Regions from separate parts of the Homo sapiens genome. Here all the other regions are linked to region 1. The links come from fine-mapping of genetic effects on gene expression. A gene starts in region 1. Each other region holds a variant in brackets. All regions are shown on one strand. Distances are between the middles of the regions.

The links. PIP is the estimated chance that this variant, and not a neighbour inherited with it, causes the effect.
Region 2: its variant is fine-mapped to the expression of CLEC6A in whole blood (TOPMed, PIP above 0.99).
Region 3: its variant is fine-mapped to the expression of CLEC6A in whole blood (TOPMed, PIP above 0.99). The same link has a PIP of 0.9 or more in blood mononuclear cells and monocytes.

The regions. Positions count from the first base shown.
Region 1 is chr12:8,452,756-8,459,787 of GRCh38, forward strand. CLEC6A (C-type lectin domain containing 6A) reads left to right here and starts at 3,207. Exons shown (of 6, transcript NM_001007033.2): 1 at 3,207-3,387; 2 at 5,143-5,232; 3 at 6,842-6,943. The coding sequence starts at 3,357.
Region 2 is chr12:8,561,012-8,568,043 of GRCh38, forward strand. It overlaps LOC124902872 (a long non-coding RNA gene), which reads right to left and starts at 6,925. Exons shown (of 3, transcript XR_007063203.1): 1 at 6,483-6,925; 2 at 3,717-5,214. It overlaps LOC105369645 (a long non-coding RNA gene), which reads left to right and starts at 3,480. Exons shown (of 4, transcript XR_007063201.1): 1 at 3,480-3,570; 2 at 3,659-3,805; 3 at 3,912-4,005; 4 at 4,512-5,062. RefSeq lists enhancers at 2,371-3,003, 3,638-4,269. The variant C/T (reference allele first, on the strand shown) is at 3,348.
Region 3 is chr12:8,537,500-8,544,531 of GRCh38, forward strand. It overlaps CLEC4E (C-type lectin domain family 4 member E), which reads right to left and starts at 3,406. Exons shown (of 6, transcript NM_014358.4): 1 at 3,262-3,406; 2 at 2,356-2,448; 3 at 1,718-1,807. The coding sequence starts at 3,298. The variant T/C (reference allele first, on the strand shown) is at 3,323.

The sequences.
Region 1 (7,032 bases):
TCTCTCTCTTGATTTTGTTTTATATTATATTATATTTTATATTGGTGCATCTCTTCTTTTTGCCTTTGCTCCTACCATTTCAGCGCTCTTGATTCAAAGGCATGTCACTGTAATCTAGAAATTTATACAGGACAAATAAATAGAAAGAAGCAAAGAGAATGGAGCATAGGGTTGCTAATGGTCAAGACCAGAACGTGATTAGGGGAGCATAATAGGAGACAGATGAGAACCAAAGAAGTGTTTAAACTACTTTACCTCCAGATAGCTGAGGAGAATGCATTCTTTTACTGGACCACCAAGTGATTCAATCCTTGGGTTTGTGTTTCTTTGTCTCTGACGGGAACTGGAAACAAATGTTGACATCTTATAACCACTTCTTCTCTCTTGTCCTTTTATGATCAAATGCATCTCAAATTAACCATTGGGGAAGTTTTCTGAGCTTTTATCCTGTTACTCAATGTCTATTTCATCATTCGCTATAGCTGTAACTATCTTGTCACTTTAAAAATCCCTGTTCAGTTTAAAACCATTGTTGAGAGGTTTTTATGGAGGCTCTATTATGAAGGCATGGTTGGTTACATCATTAGCCATTAGTGACTGAACTCAATCTCCAGGCCTTTTTCTTCCCCGGAGGAGTGGGGCTGAAAGTTTCCATCCTCTAGTCACATGGTTGGTTCCTCTGGCAACCAGCCCCCATCCTGAAGCAGTCTTGGGGAACATCAAGAGTTACCTCACGAGCATAGACACCAGGCTTGGTTAAACTTGTTATGAATCATAAAAGACTCTCTTTTCATCTTAAAATTTTTTTTTTAATGTTCAGTTAGGTAACTATTGTTAATTTTTTTCTTTCATCTTTTATTGCCCTGGAGCTATTTCAGAAACTTGGAACAAAAAACAAATAGATAACATAAGATTTTTCTTACACCTTTATTACTCTAGAACATGGTTGAGAAGCTGAGGACAAAACCCAAACATTGTAACCAAATCATTTCTATCAACCAGGAAGTTTTAGGGTTTCAGAAGCTCTGTGATAAACAAAAATGAAATATACATGTTTCTTATAATATCACAAGTTCAATATTCTAGTAGATTTTCTTGTATACAAGATTGCTCACTTGAGAATGTGGAGCTGTTTGTGATGTTAATAGAATGATCTACATTTTAGAGACTGCATGTGAATGATTAAGTATTTCAAAGCCCTTAGGTAATGATTGGAGGAAACCAAAATAACCTTCTCTAAGATAACTGCAAATTGTTGAGCTGAAAAAGGTGGCAATGTAGGAGAACATTCTTCCCCTCCTTCTTCTTGCCTGTTGGCAGAACAACAATTTACAAAGACAAAGGTCTTCCTGTCTTCCTTTCTACTTTTCCCAGCTAAGGATTAGCTCCTTTACGATACTTGTAAAAGGATTTAGAAGCAGATTTTACTCTTCCTGTTAAAATACCTTCCTGTATTTCATTTCCTTTTGGAATCGTGAAGATACTCTCTTCTTTGTCTTTTCACTATCATCCTAAAGGAAGTAGCTGAAGCCACATTAATATAGAGAGTTTATTTGGGCAAAGGATGAGGACAGCTACCCAGGAAAACACTTGTAGGTTGCCTTGGGAAGTGGTCTAGAGAGCAAAGGAAAGACTGAAGATTTTAAAGAAAAAAGAATGAATCTGAAAAATCATGGAACCATCCCAAATGCTCATCAATCAATGAGTGGATAAAGAAACTGTGGTATAGATATACAATGGACCACTACTCAGTCATAAGAAGCAATGTATTAATAGCACTTGCACTGACCTGGATGAGATTGGAGACTATTATCCTAAGTGAAGTAACTCAGGAATGGAAAACCAAACATCATATGTTCTCAATGATATGGGGAGCTAAGCTACGATGACACAAAATGTATAAGAATGGTACAATGGACTTTGGGGACTTGGGGGGAAGAGTGGGAGGGGGATGAGGGATAAAATATTACAAATATGGTGCAGGGTATGCTGCTTGGGTGATGGGTGCACAAAAATCTCACAAATCACCACTAAAAACCTTACTCATGTAACCAAATACCACCTGTACCTCAATAACTTATGGAAAAATAAAAATTAAAAAAAGAATGAATCAGGAGAGGGAGTGAATTAAAAAGTTACTCATCAGTAAATTATCATTGGTTTACAGAAACCACATTGATTAGTAATTAGCTGTATACTGTTAAATTTTAGGGTTCAGTTAGTCTAGAACCTACATAGCAAATGGCTTCAAGAGGTAAATTTCGTGCAAGGTGGCAGTGAGGCATGACTCCTGTCATATCTCTCTCATGAGTCCACTCTGGACTTGATAGTTTCAAGGCACTCACATTCCTCAAATAACAGTTTTTTTTTTTTTTCGTTCTCAGCACTCCATAGATTTATGGCTGTTTGTTAACATACTATTTAAGCAAGGCCTGTAAGCCACTGCCATGAAAGAGATAAATACATTTGAACTGAGTTCTCTCCTGAGTGATGGGTATAACACACATTGATAAACTGCTGCTTTTTCTCTTGTTTCTCTGCCTTTTGTTTTCAGGACAGTGTCTCTACTAAGAATCTATGAGGACAAGAAAACATCATATATTTTCTGTGCTACAATATAAAATTCATGAAGCCTGTTTCTGATTTTATATCACTTCAGGCTCCCTTTTGCCTAATCAGGGAGATTACAAAATATCACTGACATCTGCCCAATATTAGTCTGGATGCAGTAAGAATGTTTCATCACCTTTGCAGACTGATTTCAGAATGTTTCATTTTGCAGTCACATTCCTTAACAATGTTCATGGGTTTTGTTATTTACTATGTTACCCTTCATATCTAAACCATATCCATCCAATCAAACTTTTGCTTACTACCTAGGACACTGTTCAACACATGGATTAAGGCTTGCATAAAATAAGCAGCCAATGTAAAGGTTAGTTAGGGAGCACTTAATTTAACCAAGTTCTCTAAATAGATGTCTTTTAGGAGATAAAAAATTTTCTATTTTGCATGCCAGAATGAATAGGAATCAGACAGAGAAATTTTATGTTAGAAACTGAAGAAATGATCTAAGTATTCTTGTCAAAGTTCTCATGAATGGTTTTCAATGTTTCTCAATTCCTCTTTTGTTTTTTTTAACCCCACGTATCGAAATCACTGGAAACTTTAGTTGTAATTGTGACTTCTTCTTTTGAGGTACACTTAATGTTGGAAGTCTCTTAGTCCTATAAGAGTGTGTAGCAGTTTGTCCCTGAGCTCTAGCTTCTTTAAATGAAGCTGAGTCTCTGGGCAACATCTTTAGGGAGAGAGGTACAAAAGGTTCCTGGACCTTCTCAACACAGGGAGCCTGCATAATGATGCAAGAGCAGCAACCTCAAAGTACAGGTGAGTATTTCCTCAGTTTCAGAGGAAAGTGGAAGTGTATGGTGAAATGAGATCACCTGGAGAGAAGAAGTAGCCAAAGAACAGATTGAAGAGCTAGTGATTGGACCAATATAGTAGACTCAAAGGAATTTGAAAGAAAGAGTAATTCTTCAGAGCCAGAGCCATAAGCACTTGAAAGAATAAGAAAGCAAATATTTTTTGGGAGGTTTGTACCAGATTTTATTGATAGTTTAGGGAGACAGAAAAGATTTACATGATAGAAGGTAAACAGGGAAATAACTGATTATTGGATGTCTGCTCTTCAAAGTCTTTTGACTAATTTTGAAATCCAGGAAGCAGTACTCTTTCCAATTACCCTAAGTTTTTTTGTACTTGCTTTTCTAATTTTTTTGTAAGAGAAAAGCTTCCCATTTTTAATGCATGAAAATTTGACTTTAGCTTCAACCCTTTGCATGTCCATCAATAATGTTTTAAAAAAATTTTTATTAAAATTTTTTATGGATACAAAATAGTTGTGCATGTTTATGGGCTCCATGTCATATTTTGACACAAGAATATGATGCGTAATGGTAAAGTCTGGAAAATTACATTATCCATCACCTCAAATATTTATCATGTCTTTGTGTTTGGAACATTCCAAATCTACTCTTCTAGCTATTTTGACATATGCAATAAATTATTGTTGGGTTAGGCTCAGTGGCTCACACCTGTAATCTCAGCACTTTGGGAGGCTGAGGTGGGTGGATCACTTGAGGTCAGGAGTTAGAGACCAGCCTGGCCAACATGGTGAAATCCCGTCTCTAATAAAAAGACAAAACTTAGCTGGGCATGGTGGCATGCACCTGTAATCCTAGCCACTCAGGAGGCTGAGGCAGGAGAATCACTTGAACCCAGGAGGTGGAGGTTGCAGGGTGCCAAGATTGCCTCATTGTGCTTCAGCCTGGGTGACAGAGTGAGACTCCATGTCAAAAAAAAAAAAAAGTTAACTACAGTTATCCTGCTGTGCTAAGGGACACTAGATTTTATTTCTTCTAGCTAATTGTATTTTTGTAGGTACGAAACAACCCTTCTCTATCTTCTCTTCCCAGTTAACCTTCCTGGCCTCTGGTAACCACCATTCTATTCACTACCTCCATGAGATCAATTTTTTTAACTCCCACATATGAGTCAGAATATGCAATGTTTGTCTTTCTGTGCCTGGCTCATTTCACTTAACACGATGTCCTCTGGTTCCATCTGTGCTGTTGCAAATGGCAGGATTTTATTCTTTTTTATGGTGGAATAATATGCCATTGTATATATTATACTACATTTTCTTTATCCATTCATCTGTTGATGGACACTTAGGTTGCTTTCATATCTTGGCTACTGTGAATAGTGCTACAATAAACATGGGAGTGCAGATATCTCTTGGATATACTGAAGAAACCAAATATCAATACAGAGATATGAGAAATGGGAGACAAAAGTGATGTTTTGAGAAACGAAATCAATGGAAACATGTAATAGTTTAGAAGAAAGAATAAAGACATGGAAATTCCAGTTGGTTGAGTGTATGTTTTACCTGTATTCTTTTGGACCACAGAGCTACTACCTGGTTATTTATTCTGAGGGAGTTTGTAAGCTGTCTTCTTGCTTTAAGTTTTTAACTGCTCTGAGGTTCTTCATCTAGTTTGTTCATTGTTGTAAGCTTCCTGGGGATTTTGGCTCCCTGGCCCCCTGGTAACTGCATTTGTTGTCTTCCTGATTGGACAGAGAAAAGAGGCTGGTTGTCCCTGAGACTCTGGTCTGTGGCTGGGATTTCCATTGCACTCCTCAGTGCTTGCTTCATTGTGAGCTGTGTAGGTAAGTTCTTCACTGAGGTGCATTTTCCTTGCTTCCTTTCCCTTGAATATTCCATACAGGTTTCCTAGGATATATTCTCCTTTGCCCCATTAATACGTCAGCTCTTACTTGGAATGCCACACTTTCCTTGATTTCTCCTTTTCCCTTTGTTTTTCTCCCTCTATCTTTTGAAAACTGAATTCTTGTAGATGTACTTTACCTGGTTTTATTAGCATTTTCTGAATCATGGCCTCACATATCCATGTTGTCCATTGTAGCCATCATCTAAGACACCATCTTTCAGGACTGGATTCACTAGTAATTGTGTGTTCCCTGGTGACAAAACTCTTGTATTGGGAGTGCAACTCTAATTGCTGTCATAATTGTCATATTCTATATTAGATTCTTTGATTCATGTGCAGATCCTTTCCAATGTGAGAGGAAAAAGTATTCAAATGAAATGATGGAGATAAAGAGGATAAAATATTTCTTCCCTGTTCTGCTTGCCTCCAAATACATGTCTCAAGTTCATTGTGTGAGAAGTCTTAAAGACCTTTTTCCTCTCCGATTCACAATTTGGATTTCTATTCATTGATAAGGTGATTAAAAATGGGTATTGAATAGTCTGGGAGGGAGTGAAAGTGACTTCCCCTGTCAATCAGGTTGTAGCTATAGTTCCCTCAGAGATTTAAATAAATCTCACAATATTTAGTAAAATACAAATAATTATCACCAAAGTTAGAATCTGTTTTACTTTTCATAATCAAGTGCAAGAGAGAAGGGGGTTTAAGAATAGTTATTTCATAAAAAGAAACACAAATTCAGGATCTCAAAACATGAACTAAGAGCGGGGCAGAAAGATTTGGTTGTATTGAGCTCTAGTTATAGAAGGACAAAAAAGAAATGAGTGAAGAATCAGATCAGATCCTGAGAGATAAAAGGTCTTGCTGAAAGTGAACATTAACATAAAAGTTAATGTTCATTTGAGACATTAAAAATATTTTTATAAACGTTTAAAGTTTCCCCTTGGTGGTTACTTAGCCCATATGTTTATGTGTGGCTACCTGCAGCTAGAATTATCTAGAAAACATCAAAATAACCTGTGTGCTTGCATCAAGGTTATTAAGGCTAAGGAGAAGCAGACATCCAGTGAGTCCATAAATATTTATTGATGACTTTGTGACAGTTACCCTTGTAGGTGTTTGTGATTAAAAAAAATTATCAGTTTTCACCTTCAGACTTCCTTCTTTTTTTATAATAAAATATTTTTAAATTATTATTTAAAATTGTGGGTACATAGTAGGTGTATATATTTACGGGGTACATGAGATGTTTTGATACCTTTAAGTTGTGTTTGTGATTAATTGTTGTGGGAAACAGGCAGAATCTCTGTCCAAGAGCATGGAGCCTAAATTCTAGTGGTGAAAAGACCAAAAAATTAAATGAGGGATATATATAAAAAAATAAGATAAGTGAATACAAGCAAATAATAATTTGGCATGGTTTTTATGGGGCTTGCCTAGAGAAACAGCAGTGGGGGTCAGAGGTAAGCCAGCACTGTACAGATATAGAGCCTAAGGCTTTATAGCAAAATAATAGATGGACACTAATCCTTCTTCTTCCTTTACAGTAACTTACCATTTTACATATGGTGAAACTGGCAAAAGGCTGTCTGAACTACACTCATATCATTCAAGTCTCACCTGCTTCAGTGAAGGGACAAAGGTGCCAGGTAAATCTTTAAAATACTGAAATAGACTTTCTTTTTTCTCAGGGAGAGATCAGGGTTGAGCTCAAGATTGGTGTATTCTATTGTGCATT
Region 2 (7,032 bases), 110 kb after region 1:
TCCAGAACAAGTGAGGGAATTATGCCATCTCCACCAGACAGCTGCTTTTCCATCTTTACCAGAGCCATCAATAAACAGTGTTAAAGCATTAGGTATGGGGGATTGAACTATTTTTGTAGGCGAAAGCACAGAAGTACGAGATAAGAACTGAAGGAGTTTGTCAGCAGGAAGGGCGTGCTTTATACGGCCTGTGTAATCAGAGAGTGCTATTTGCAGGTCCATAGATAAGGGCAATACTGCTTCAAATTGCTTTTTACTTAAAGGAATTCTGATGATATTAGGGTCATAACCTAGTAATAGATTGCCTTGTCTGCAGCCTAAATAGATGACTTTACTAACTAACTGGATATAGGGAGAGACTGTTTTAGTCCCAGTATGTGAGCAAAAAACCCATCCTAGGACAGCCCTGGGGTCATCTGTCCTATTAGCCCTGTAGAGGTGTGTTTAGTGGGAAAAACAAATAATTGAACTGAATACCATGGATCAATGCAATCTAGTTGCCTCTAAGAAATAGCTTGCTCTATCTCTTCAATTTCCCTTTGTGCTGCAGGAGTTAAATACCTAGAGAGTCTAGGGCAGCATTGTCTTTTAAGATAGACAACAGGTTCTGTAACTTATCAGTAGTTATGCCCAAGGTTGGGCGAAGCCAGTTAATATCACCTAGTCATTTCTGATAATCATTCAAGGTATGTAAGTTGCCAGTATTTAATTTAACATTTTGGGGTCTTACTGACCGGGTAGTTAGTATATACTCAAGGTATTTCCAAGGAGAGGAAATTTGTACTTTTTCAGGTGCTACGATTAAACCTCTTAACTGTGTATTCCTTATGACAGAGGCACGTAACTTTAAAAGTACTGGCTCTGTTGGGGCTGCTAGTAAAATATCATCCATAAAATGAATAATCTTGCAATTAGGAAATTCTTTTCTACTGGGGAGCAAAGCCTGATTTACATGATACTGACACATGGTAGGACTGCTCAGCATTCCTTGGGGTAGCACTTTCCAATGAAATCGGTGAGCTGGCCTTTCATTATTGATAGCTGGTATTGTAAACACAAATTTTTCTCTGTCCTGTTCTGCAAGGGGAATAGTATAAAAACAGTCTTTTAAGTGAATAACGATTATAGGCCAATCTCAAGGAATCGCTGCAGGGGAGGGGAGCCCCTACTGAAGGGGCCCCATAGGTTGCAAATTAGCATTGATAGCACGCAAGGCATGCAAAAGTCTCCATTTACCAGACTTTTTGGGGATGACGAAAATGGGCGAATTCCAAGGGTTGTTTGACGGTTCTGTATGGCCGGCTTTTAATTGCTCCTCAACTAATTCATGGGCTCTTTGCAATTTCTCTCCCTTTAAAGGTCACTGTTCTACCCAAATAGGATTTTGAGAGAGCCACGTCAGGGGCAGGGGAGAGATAACAACAATGGCCATTATTAGAAAGAGGTCTGCAGAGTGACCGCAATTAACCCTCTCGTAAATGGGCTGGTGGCACCGCCTACTGGCCTGGAGGTCAAACTGCACAGCTCAATGTAAAACCTGCAGAGTAAAGTGCACCTGGCTATCTATAGAAGCAAAACCAAAAGACCCTACCCAACATTTCCACAGTCACGCCCCCAGGGGAAGGGGAATAATAGTGGGAAAAAAACCCATCAAAATGAAAATAAATTTAAAAATAAGAAGTGTCAGCTTCCCCAAATGAGAAGAAACCAGAGTAAGGATTATTGCACCATGAAAAATCTGAATGCTGTGACACCACCTAAGGATCAATAGACCTTAACCAAGATGAACACTCAGAAATGACAGATGAAAAATACAAAGTATGGATTGCAAGGAAGCTCAATGAGATCCAAGAGAAGCTTGAAAACCAACACAAAGAAACCATGAAAGCAATCCAGGAGATGAAGAGATAGATATCTAAAAAACAGAAGTTCTAAAAATGAAAAATTCACTTAAAGATTTTCAAAATATATTTGAAAGCTTTAATAATAGATTAGGTCAAGCAGAAGAAGGAATTTCAGAGCCTGAAGACTGCTCTTTCAAATTAACTCAGTCAAATAAAAATAAAGAAAAAAAGAATTTTTAAAAAATGAAAATTCAAGAAATATGGGATTATGTAAAGTGACCAAACCTATGACTTACAGGCATTCTTGGAAGAGAAGAAAAGATAAGCAACCTGGAAAGCATATTTAAAAGAATAATTCAGAAAAAATTATCTAATCTTACTAGAGAAGTAGACTTCCAGGTACAAGAAAGTCAGAAAATACCTTTAAGATACAAAATGCCACTGCACTCCAGCCTGGGCGACAGAGCAAGACTCTGTATCAAACAGAAACAAAAACAAAACAAAGATATGCTTGCAAAAATATGAAATGGCAGATGCACATGGTTATTTGCACCATTATTTTCAAAAGTCAAACTGGAGCACCATCTGAATATTCATCAAATTCAGGACTGATGAGGCAGAGCAACACAATGGATTATTATGCAGATATACAAGAGAATGCGGAAGCTCTGTAAAGTAGGGTGTGAACTCCAGGACACAGGGTGAAGTGAAGAAAGCAAGGTGCAGAAATTGCACACAGTATGCCATCTTTTGTACTGGGGAAAGGAATACAAAGCAGCGGGGAAAGGAATGTGTATGCATGTATATGTAAATACAGTCATTAAAACTGAAAACAAAGTGGCACAAATAAACCTAATTCCCTATCGAGTTGGCATTGCTGCCTTAACCACACAGAGGAAAGTAACTGACTTCAGAGCACAGTATCTTCACTGTATTTCTTCAGTATGATATAATCCAAAGACACAAATACTGCATAGACATCTCAATGTCACTTGAAGTGAAATAACATAAAAATGGGAACAGACTCCTGCTGCTGCTCCAGAAAGATGAACATGAGAAAGGGACCATTATCTCTAATGTTTTCTCATGTAGAAAATGCAGGGAATAGCTTAAATCGAAGTTCAACTTTGGGAGCTGATAATTGAGTGAAAGTCTTCTTCCTTGATTGCCCTGGGAAGAAATCTTCATTTTTGGTTTGCAAGACCATGAAAATGAGACAATAAATACAACAAATGAAATACTTTACACTCAAAAACTATTTTTAAAAAAACAGACAAAATATAGAAAATAAGTATAAGTAACATATTCAAAGAGACATTAAACGACATTTTATTAATTTTAAAAGCTATAGATTATAGAAATAAAAATTTTCCGTATGAAATTTCCCTCCTAAGGGTCGGCCCAAGTCCAGGACCTGTCTGGGAATTGTGGACATATCGGTAGGACACGGGCAAGGATTGCCATCTCGCTCAGCACCTGTTTCCTTGAACGATGAGAATAACC[C/T]ATCTCTCCTGTTTTAAGTGTGATTTGTCATATACATCAATAGGCATCTTGGCTCAACATACGAAAGCCCCTTTCCACAGAGACAGCTGCCTCCAGCCTGAAGAAGTTGCCACAGGAGGTAGAAGGAGGTCCCTTGCCCATGCCTGGGAGACCCAGCCAGAGTGGACAGGGAGGCGGCCCGGGCCGGGGTGCCAGACTCAGCAAATAAACACAGCATGCCCAGGTAACTCTGAATTTCAGATAACCAACGAATAACTTTGTGTGATACTATATTTGTACTCAAAAGTAACTCGTTTATCTGAAATTCAAAGTTGACGGCGCATGTGGTACTGTATTGAATCTGGCAACGCTCCACCTTGGTTTTCCTACCCGGGTTTGTGGAAGGGGCTCCCCCTGCCCCGCAGGTGCCGCCCCGAGGAGGTGGAGGAGGAGGAGCCGGGCACTGACTGGGGACCCAGGTGAGTCTAGCAAATGACAAGGCCCAACGGTCAAAACCGCCTCAGTAATGCGCTCGTCCAAAGCACGCACTTAACGCTCAATCCTGGTGTCGCGTCCCGTTGCCAGGCAACGAAAGCAAGCGCTGCAAAGACGAAGGGGAGCGCCCAAGGATGAGGAACGTTCCAAGACACTGAGTGATTTGCTGAAAATCACACATCTAGTAAGTGGCAGAATCAGATAAGGAAACTGCAGCATAGACAGATTAAGTAATTTAGTTAAGGTCACACAAGTAGTATTTGGGGAAGCCAGGATTTGAGTCCAGGAAGTCAGGGTTCAATGCTCATGATTATCCTGATATAGAATAAAATATTTGTAGCTTAAAAGAATGAACCGGACATATCCTCTCTGATATTCTCTGTTGTTTCAAGTTCTCTTCATCAGGATATTCTGAAAAGGGGTTATTCACTCTTTTCCTCCATAAAGAATAGCGTAACTACGTGACTCATTAATAGCTCTGTCCAAATGAAAGAAAAATCTGACAGCGATTTGGAGCTTAATGTGAAATGGTGTACTCACAATAGATTCATATATTAGGATGGAAGGGTGTGCGAGATCATTTCTCCTGGATAGACAGACCCCCACTCCTGGGGGAGGGGTCACTCCTTGATTGAAAAAGAATGTTGCTAATTATACTCATGTTTGTCTTATGTTATTTACTAATTCTAGGATGCAAAGCCAGAATGCGAGCAGTGACCACCACACTTGACAAATCCGTTGTTGCACACATTTGTACTCTTCAATCAACAAAACCTGATGCAAAAAACAGAAAAGGGGGAGATGTACATGCATTTTCCCTCACTGCAAAAAAAACACAACTTGTTTAACTACAGGTGTGTTCCTGGTGGTCTTTGAATGAAGACATTGACAGAAAGTAACATAGCATGCTGGTTAAAGACTGTTTTTATTCGAATCCTGGCTTTGCCAATCAACAGCTGCATAAATTAAACTCTCGACCTCAGCTCCCTTATTTGTAAAACAAGAATAACAAAAAGACATTTTTATAAGGTTGGGTTGAAGGTTAAATGAAATAACAGAAGATTATCTCTTCACTAATTTTAGCTGTAGAAAACAGAAGCCAATCGAAAGAGCTCCCAGTCCAAAGCTGGAACAACTTGAACAACAAAATAAATAATGTAGCATTGGATTACAAACCAACCATAAAACAAATATCCATGAGTCTATACTGATGTCAATAAATGAATAAATGTGGGAAAATAGACAAATCTCCTTTCTCATACAGAAGGATTCCAAATAATTTGTGTAGATATTTCACTTTTAACTTGTTCTGTGGCTACGCATTAAGTCAGGATTTCCTTTCTTGCATAAGGAGGACAAGGAAGTTTATTGGACAGCATGTCAGTTCTCTTCACTCCATGCAACAACAAAATGAGGAAATTATGAAATGGTAAGCATCAACACAAATAGGCTGGCCATGGGGAAATAGGAGAGTTTTTTTTAAATGTTGTTTCGTTTTGTTGGACCAAATGTCTCTAGTTTCTTCAAGGCATAACTCATCCCCCAGTTTTTCCTTGACAATATGGAGCTCACCTCTGCACTCTCATAGCCAACTGAACTCATGGCAGGATGCCATGTTACTTGGGTTAATTTCTGGAAAGCTTCTACATACCTATTAGGGCCATCTGAAAACCTGCCAAGATCCCCCTTAGTTTGCAATAAATCCTGAAGAGAAAAGGGCACCTGGATCTTAACAGGGCCATATTCATCAGGCATCTGTTGTAGGGGCAGGAGTGAGACTGGCACCTGCCTAAAATGAGGATTTCTAGAGGTACCTAGAGGTATCTCTGGGGCTTGCTTCCCTATTTCCTTGGGATTGCCCCTTGTAACCTCTCCTGAGATGGCCACTAGGAGGGCTGAATCAATCCTACAATGTTGGCAAAGATCCAGGTTAACATGCAAGGCAAAGAAGGCCTGCACATAAGGGACCTAGGACCCTTTGCCCTCATGTTTACAGAAAAGCTTCCTTCCTGAGGCAAGGCTTCTCTTCTGTGCCTCAAGGTGCTTGGCACTAAGTTGGCAACCAAGTAAATTACAAGAACATTTTCACCACAAATTTACATACAGATACCAAGACACACTTTGCTACATCTGTGCTACTCTTACACTTTGGTGACCAAGCCAAATGCTCATTCCACCCAGTAATATCTCTGGCTTGCAACAACATCCTTTACATTTAACATCGTATATAAAAGAGATAGGAACCATGATAGCCATGAAAGAAAGAAAAGAACAATAGGAAAGGCTGAAGGTCCTAGTGCGGACACCCTAATGGGCAGTTGGGGACTGGAGTTAGTCCAGGAGCCTTTGAATAACACCAAAGTGTAGCCTTGGCCAGATACCCTCAGTTGCCCCAGGACCTCCTTCCAGTCCCATGAGATGGCTAGACCTCCATGAAGGGAAATTGGGTTAGAACAAAGCCAACATTCCCAACACCTGAGGTTGATGGGGGATTGACAGTGTCCCTCCCCAGCAAGCCTGTCCTTCATGTCTTAAGTTCTGCAGCTGCACTAGTTGCTTTTAACTGGTTGACAGAAGCCTGGTATTTTTCTTTCATTTTGACTATTGTGGAGTTTAGAGACTCCAAAAGAAAGGACAGAAAGTAGATCCACTTTTACTTACCCTTTTGGAGATCCCAGATGAGCCCCCAAAATGTTACAGTGTCACTGCCAGTGGTGCCAAATCCTGCCTATGCAGACAAGTGGAAGGTGAACAAGACAAAGAAGAGCTTTATTGAGTGTTACAGCTCAGAGAAAATCCACAGTGGGTTGCTCCTCTCTGTAGGCAGATCATCCAATCAAGTGTCCAGCTCTCAGCAGAGAGGAGGCTCTGAAGAGGGTAGCTCCTCTCTGCCCACTGGTTGCCCCATTGTCTGCTGTTCTTAGCAGAGCGAAGACCTTGGAGAGGGTGACTCCTCTCTGCAGGCAGTTCATTCAATGTCTCTGCAGGTCTCTGAAGCTCTCACAGAGAAGGTAGCTCCTCTTTGCAGCTGGTTGTCCAGTCCTCTCTCAGTCCTCTGTCCTCTGCCCTTCTCTGGCTGAGCCCAGGGCTTTTCTCTGCCCTCTACTTTACTCTGGCTGAGCCCTAGGCTTTTATGGACCTCAGATGGGAGGAAGTGCCTGCCGATTGGTCCATGACTGGCCATGGGTGGGCCTAGAGGAGATACCACATG
Region 3 (7,032 bases), 85 kb after region 1:
CAACTATATATGCAAACTATCTTAGTTATGCTATTGATATAGAACCTTATTATCTGTTCTTAGACTACTAATGTCAGAGAAATTTATGCATTTTATTTGGGTGACCCCCAAAGAGCCATCTCTTATGTTACCTAAACAATGTATCCTCAATCAAATCTCCATACTGTAGTATATAGATGGGTTAGATGTGGGCGGCAAGCCACCCAGGCGCTGAGGCAAGAGACAGAGGACACGAGCTGTTCCAGTATAATAAAATATAAAACAAGAATAGTTATACCAGATATAGATCTTAGATATGATTATATATGAATATCATTAATCATTAGTTTGTAGCAATTACTTTTTATTCCAATATTATAATAATCCTCGCTCTATAATCATAGCCAAGGAAAAACCAGGCCGTACAGAGCTACGAGCTGAGGGGACATAGTGAGGTGTGACCAGAAGACAAGAGTGCGAGCCTTCCGTTATGCCCGGACAGGGCCACCAGAGGGCTCCTTGGTCTAGCGGTGACGCCAGCGTCTGGGAAGACGCCCGTGGCCAGGCAGACAGACTGTGGTCTAGCGGTAGCGTTAAGTGTCAAGGGAAAACACCCGCTACTTAGCAGACAGGAAAAGGGAGTCTTCCTTTCCCTGGGGGAGTTTAGAGAAGACTCTGCTCCTCCACCTCTTGTGGAGGGCCTGACATTAGTCAGGCTTGCCCGCAGTTATCCGGAGGCCTAACCGTCTCCCTGTGATGCTGTGCTTCAGTGGTCACACTCCTAGTCTGCCTTCATGTTCCATCCTGTACACCTGGCTCTGCCTTCTAGATAGCAGTAGTAAATTAGCGAAAGTACTAATAGTCCCTGATATGCAGAAATAATAGCGTAAGCTGTCTTTCTCTCTGTCTCCTCTCCCTCTCTGCCTCGGCTGCCAGGCAGGGAAGGTCCCCCTGTCCAGTGGACACGTGACCCACATGACCTTACCTATCATTGGAGATGACTCACACTCTCTACCCTGCCCCTTTCACCTTGTATCCAATAAATAACAGCGCAGCCAGACATTCGGAGCCACTACCGGTCTCCGCGCATTGGTGGTAGTGGTCCCTTGGGCCCAGCTGCCTTTTCTTTTATCTCTTTGTCTTGTGTCTTTATTTCTACATGCTCTCGTCTCTGGACACAGGGAGAGACCCACCAACCCTGTGGGGCTGGTCCCTACAGTTAGATTTCTTAGAATTACAGAACTTTTGCCTTTGAGGTCTATTATAAATAATTCTTCTAACTTCTCTCAATTTAATGGTGAGAAAATTATAGCTCAGAGAAGGAAGTCACTTTTTTAGTGTCATGTAGCATTTTGCTAGGACTTGCAACAGGATGACATAGAAGAGCATAGAGAGTATATTTGTGAGATATTTATAAATTCTCTACTCCATACGTTTTTTCTCCATCTCATTTTGGAAGTAGGTGAATGAAAAAAAAGGTACACTCCTGGGAATAATACCTTCCACTTCCAGATTTACTGTTCAGACATACCCCTCAAATTTATTCTAAAAGTTTACTATAATGTCCCCAAGACTTTCTGCCCCAATGCTAATTGCATCACCAAATTTCTAGGATTTTACATTTTGCTTTTGAAAAATAAGACCTAATCCAGCTATATCTCACCTGTCCCAAAGTCAATCTAGAAGCCAGAAAATGTTGCTTTGTAAATTTTGATGTTCACCTTTGGGACTATTATACCTGATCCATAATTGTAGCAGGAGAGCTCTGTGAAATTCTCAGGTAGCTGAAACTTTTTCTCATCACAGGTTTGAAAGATGCGAAATGTCACTGTAAAAGAAAGGGCATAATGTTTGTTAGTCTTATTTCGGTTAAAAATGTCAGTTCCCTCAGTTTTGTATTTATAACAAAAGTGCCAATAATTATCATGTTTTTTCTTACAATCTGCTTTTTCTTACGACCCAGAGAAAATAGATATGTTTGCACTACCTCTTATGCCAAGTCCAACTCTCTCTACCCTTCCTTCCAAAAGTAATTAGTCATATCTCTGGTGCCGACCAGTAGTTCAAGCTCTAAGGCAGACTCTCCTAGAGAAGGTTACACTAATGATAGAGGCTGAAAGAGGAGGATTCAGGACTGCCAAGGAAGTGAAAAATGTCTATCATGAAAAGTAAGTCACAGGTGATTAAAATTCAGAAACAGTTCCCTGCTTGTTGAGGTTTCTGGTTTGAGAAATAACCTAGAGATTAATAGGGAAAAAAAAAAGGGTGAAATAGAAAGACCCTTTGAGGGCAAAGAGAGTCTACAGGCAGCATGGAAGAGTTTTCTCCTAATATGCACCAGGAAGAATTAAATTGAATTTGACCTTCAGAACCCACCAACACATCTGGTGATGAAACAGGCACTGAGAAATAGGATGGGGATCCCAGCAACAGTCCATAAGAACATTTGGGAAGAGAAGCATCCTCTCTCTGTAGAAAGAAAGACACAAACATGATCAATCTTCCCTAAGCAAGGTACAAAAGAGATAGAAGAGATTCTTATTCATCCTTACTTATTTCCTTCTACTTCCATTGTTTGTACTGAGTAATTCCCAAATTTCAGCATGCTTCAGAATCACTTGGAGGGTTTATGGAAACACAGATTGCTGACCCTTACCCCCAGAGTTAGCAACTCAGTAGAGTTTGTATGGAACCAACAAGTTCCCAGGGGCTACTGCTGCTGCTGGTCTGAGGACCACACGTTTAGCACCCCTGGAGTAAGACTCTGACTCATGAACTCAGATATACAATTTTTCCTTTCTAAGTCTCTCAGTTAAATTTTTTTCAGTATTTTCTAAGGCCCCCCTTCTTTCTTTTTCTTTCTTTTCCCTTTTCTCGTCTTTGCTTTTCTTGTCCTTCTCCTGATCTTTTTTTTTTTTCTGTGTCTCACTTTTCAAGCGCTTTGTAAATTAGGTAAAATGTTAACAGTCATCTAATAGTTCCTCTCTTCCTCCCATTAAACATTTTACAGACAAAGAGAGTTCCAGAGAAGTGAAGTGACTTGCCAAAAGGGACACAATGTATTGCAGAAAGGGTGGAAACTGATAGCTCTCCCTTAGCTAGAGGCCAGCAGGCTTTCTGGTATAAGAAATAGTCTTTAAATCTCTCTCTCTCTCTTCCTCTGTCCCCCCACTTTTTTTTTTAACTTCAGTGAATACTTTTCTATTGTCCTGTCTTTCACCATATTTATCACTTGTTCCAAAAAGAGATCTATGGAAGGAAAGGAAGAGTTGCAGATTTTACCTGTGCATTGTGTTTCAGATGATTTAGATGAATTCATTTTTTCTCTCTCTTTGGTTTTTTG[T/C]TTCTCTCTCTCTCTTTTTCTCTCCCTCCCTCTCTTTCTTTCTCCTCAGGAGTGTTTTGTTGGTAAGATTCAGGGAGAATGAATCTTGAAAGATAAACACTTTGTCTTTTAGGAAGTTCAGCTCCGATAGATGTAGAATATTAACTTGTTCTGTGGCTACGCATTAAGTCAGGATTTCCTTTCTTGCATAAGGAGGACAAGGAAGTTTATTGGACAGCATGTCAGTTCTCTTCACTCCATGTAACAACAAAATGAGGAAATTATGAAATGGTAAGCATCAACACAAATAGGCTAGCCATGGGGAAACAGGAGAGTTTTTTTTTTAAATGTTGTTTCGTTTCGTTGGACCAAATGTCTCTAGTTTCTTCAAGGCATAACTCATCCCCCAGTTTTTCCTTGACAATATGGAGCTCACCTCTGCACTCTGAATTTCACTTTGGATCTGTACCATCCACACATTTGGTAACTGAAAAGAAGACTTAGACAACATAGCACAAAGCTGGGCATATAGTGTATGTATTTAGGACATGGCAACCTGAATTTTTTCATCTTTTTTTTTTTTTTTTTTTTTGAGACAGAGTCTCGCTCTGTCGTCCAGGCTGGAGTGCAGTGGCATGATCTCCGCTCACTGCAAGCTCCGCCTCCCGGGTTCAAGCCATTCTCCTGCCTCAGCCTCCCGAGTAGCTGGGACTACAGGCGCTCGCCACCACGCCTGGCTAATTTTTTGTATTTTTAGCAGAGACGGGGTTTCACTGTGGTCGTCAGGATGGTTTCAATTTCCTGACCTCGTGATCCGCCCGCCTCAGCCTCCCAAAGTCCTGAGATTACAGGCGTGAGCCACCGCGCCCGTCCTCTTTTTCATCTTTTATGGTTTTTCTTTCTTCTTCATTTGCAGCTCTTGAATATTCTAATGTTGTGGATTTATGTCCCTCTTATCTTATGCTGACTACTAGGCTGCTACTACTAGGCTGACTACTAGAGTCCCCCTCAGCAGGACAGCCTCATGTGATTAGACCACTTTGAAACTCAGCTTAGTTTTTCACAACATAACGCAGCTTCTGAAGTCTCAGAGACCCAGCAGGCAGTTTAATTCTCCTGTTCTCAATTATTTGGGGATTTTAGTTCTATGTTACAGCCTACAGTAGGAGAAATGTATTTGAAGGTCAGAAAAAGCAATTTCAATTAGATATTAGAATTTAATGGTTCTCTGGGCCGGGAGCAGTGGCTCATGCCTGTAATTCCAACACTTTGGGAGGCCAAGGTGGGTGGATCATTTGAGGTCAGGAGTTTGAGACCAGCCTGGCCAACATGGTGAAACCCCACCTCTACTAAAAATACAAAAATTAGCCAAGTGTGGTGGCACGCATCTGTAATTCCAGATACTTGAGAGGCTGAGACAGGAGAATAGCTTGATCCTGGGAGGCAGAGGTTGCAGTGAGCCAAAATTGCACCACTGCACTCCAGCCTGGGCGATAGAGTGAGACTCTGTCTCAAAAAAAAAAAAAAAAAAGAATTAATGCTTCTCTGGAAGAATAGTTAGATATGTGCCTTCTCCTTACTTAAAGATACTTAAGAATAAGATCACACTGGTCTCAGTTTATTTAAGTTCACGAGTCAGGAGGCATAAGTATGATGTACATGACTTGGTAAATCCCCACATCCAGTGACTCACGAATTTTCCATGTGTGAGAAAATATTCTTGTTCTCAAAGGGACTTTTTATTATTTCAAGGTACTGGTCAATTTTCTCTGCATTCTCTGTTTTATAGTAATACAATTTTAAAAATATCTTTAAATTATATATGTGTATATTATAGAATATACCCATATTTAATATGTGTATTCTCAGCAAATAGCTTTTGATCAGTAAAAAAAGAGAAACTATCTAGTGGATGAGCTATATGAATTATAAAATGATGAACATAATTACCACAGTCCATCTTTTATTAATTACAATCAACCAGCAACCATCAATATTACTAAACAATTGTATGTTAATTTTTATCAATATACAATTAAACAGAAATCAATAAATTAATATTTTTTCCAGCCAAAATGTTTTTATATCTTTTGTTTCATTGATTTTCCCCAAATTATACGAGTAATATGTTTTATGATTAATACTATGAAAAGCATGTGACAAGTAAAAGCCTTCTTAACTATCCTTAGTGCATTCTTCTAAAGTTGACCATGCTTAATGATTTCTTTTTTGGGGGGGGGGATTAATTTTTATTTATTTTTATTTATCTTTTATTACACTTTAAGCTTTAGGGTACGTGTGCACAACGTGCAGGTTTGTTACATATGCATACATGTGCCATGCTGGTGTGCTGCACCCATTAACTCGTCATTTAGCATTAGGTATATCTCCTAATGCTATCCCTCCCCCCTCCCCCCACCCCACAACAGTCCCCAGAGTGTGATGTTCCCCTTCCTGGGTCCAAGTGTTCTCATTGTTCAATTCCCACCTATGAGTGAGAACATGCGGTGTTTGGTTTTTTGTTCTTGCGATAGTTTGCTGAGAATGATGGTTTCCAGCTTCATCCATGTGCCTACAAAGGACATGAACTCATCATTTTTTATGGCTGCATAGTATTCCATGGTGTATATGTGCCACATTTTCTTAATCCAGTCTATCATTGATGGACATTTGGGTTGGTTCCAAGTCTTTGCTATTGTGAATAGTGCCACAATAAACATACGTGTGCATGTGTCTTTATAGCAGCATGATTTATAATCCTTTGGGTATATACCCAGTAATGGGGTGGCTGGGTCAAATTGTATTTCTAGTTCTAGATCCCTGAGGAATCTCCACACTGACTTCCACAATGGTTGAACTAGTTTACGTCCCACCAACAGTGTAAAAGCATTCCTATTTCTCCACATCCTCTCCAGCACCTGTTGTTCAGCAATAGATTCTTTGATTTCCCTTTTTAAATATCATCCAGGAACTTATCGTCTAAGTCCCTTTTCTAAACTATATTGCCTGTCAATATTTCAGGCAACTGAAAAAGAATCAGTAAAAGCTGTAAACATCTATGCCATACGAGTATTGTTAGTATCTACTTTTCTTTGATGCCAAGAGAAACATCACTCAATTTTAGCCTTGGGGCAGATTTATTTTTTGTCTTTTCATCTAACATGCAATCACTAACTGATCCCAGGGCTGCTGCTTCCCAGGTTGACGGCCAGCCCTTTACCCTTGAACTGCCATCTATCTGTAAGCCACACTGCTGCCTTGACAGCTGACCAGAGAGAGGGGCCTATTCAGCTATAGGTTTAGCCAACTCCTCAGGGGAACCAAATTTATGGTGACCTGTCAGCCACCTGACTGTGCATGCATTGGGTAACCCCATTTCACATTCTTGAGTATCTCCTTTCTATTCAAGGAGGGAATTCTGTGCATTTCATTTCTTGTTGGAATGATGATATGATATAAATAGGATGTTATGAGTTTTCAAATAATTTTATGTCCTTCAGTACAAAAAGCAGTTTCAACTAAAACCCAGTAACAAGCTAGCAATTCCTTTTAAATGGTGCTACTTCAAGCTGCAGCCAGGTAGCTTTTTATTACAAAAATCCCACAGGCAGCCACTAGGTGGCAGTAACAGGCTTTTGCCAGCGGCTCCAGTCAGCATGGCTTGACTGTGTGCTGCAGAAACTTCTTAAATCGTCTGTGTTTGGGACTCGTGGGGCCCCACAGGGCTTTAC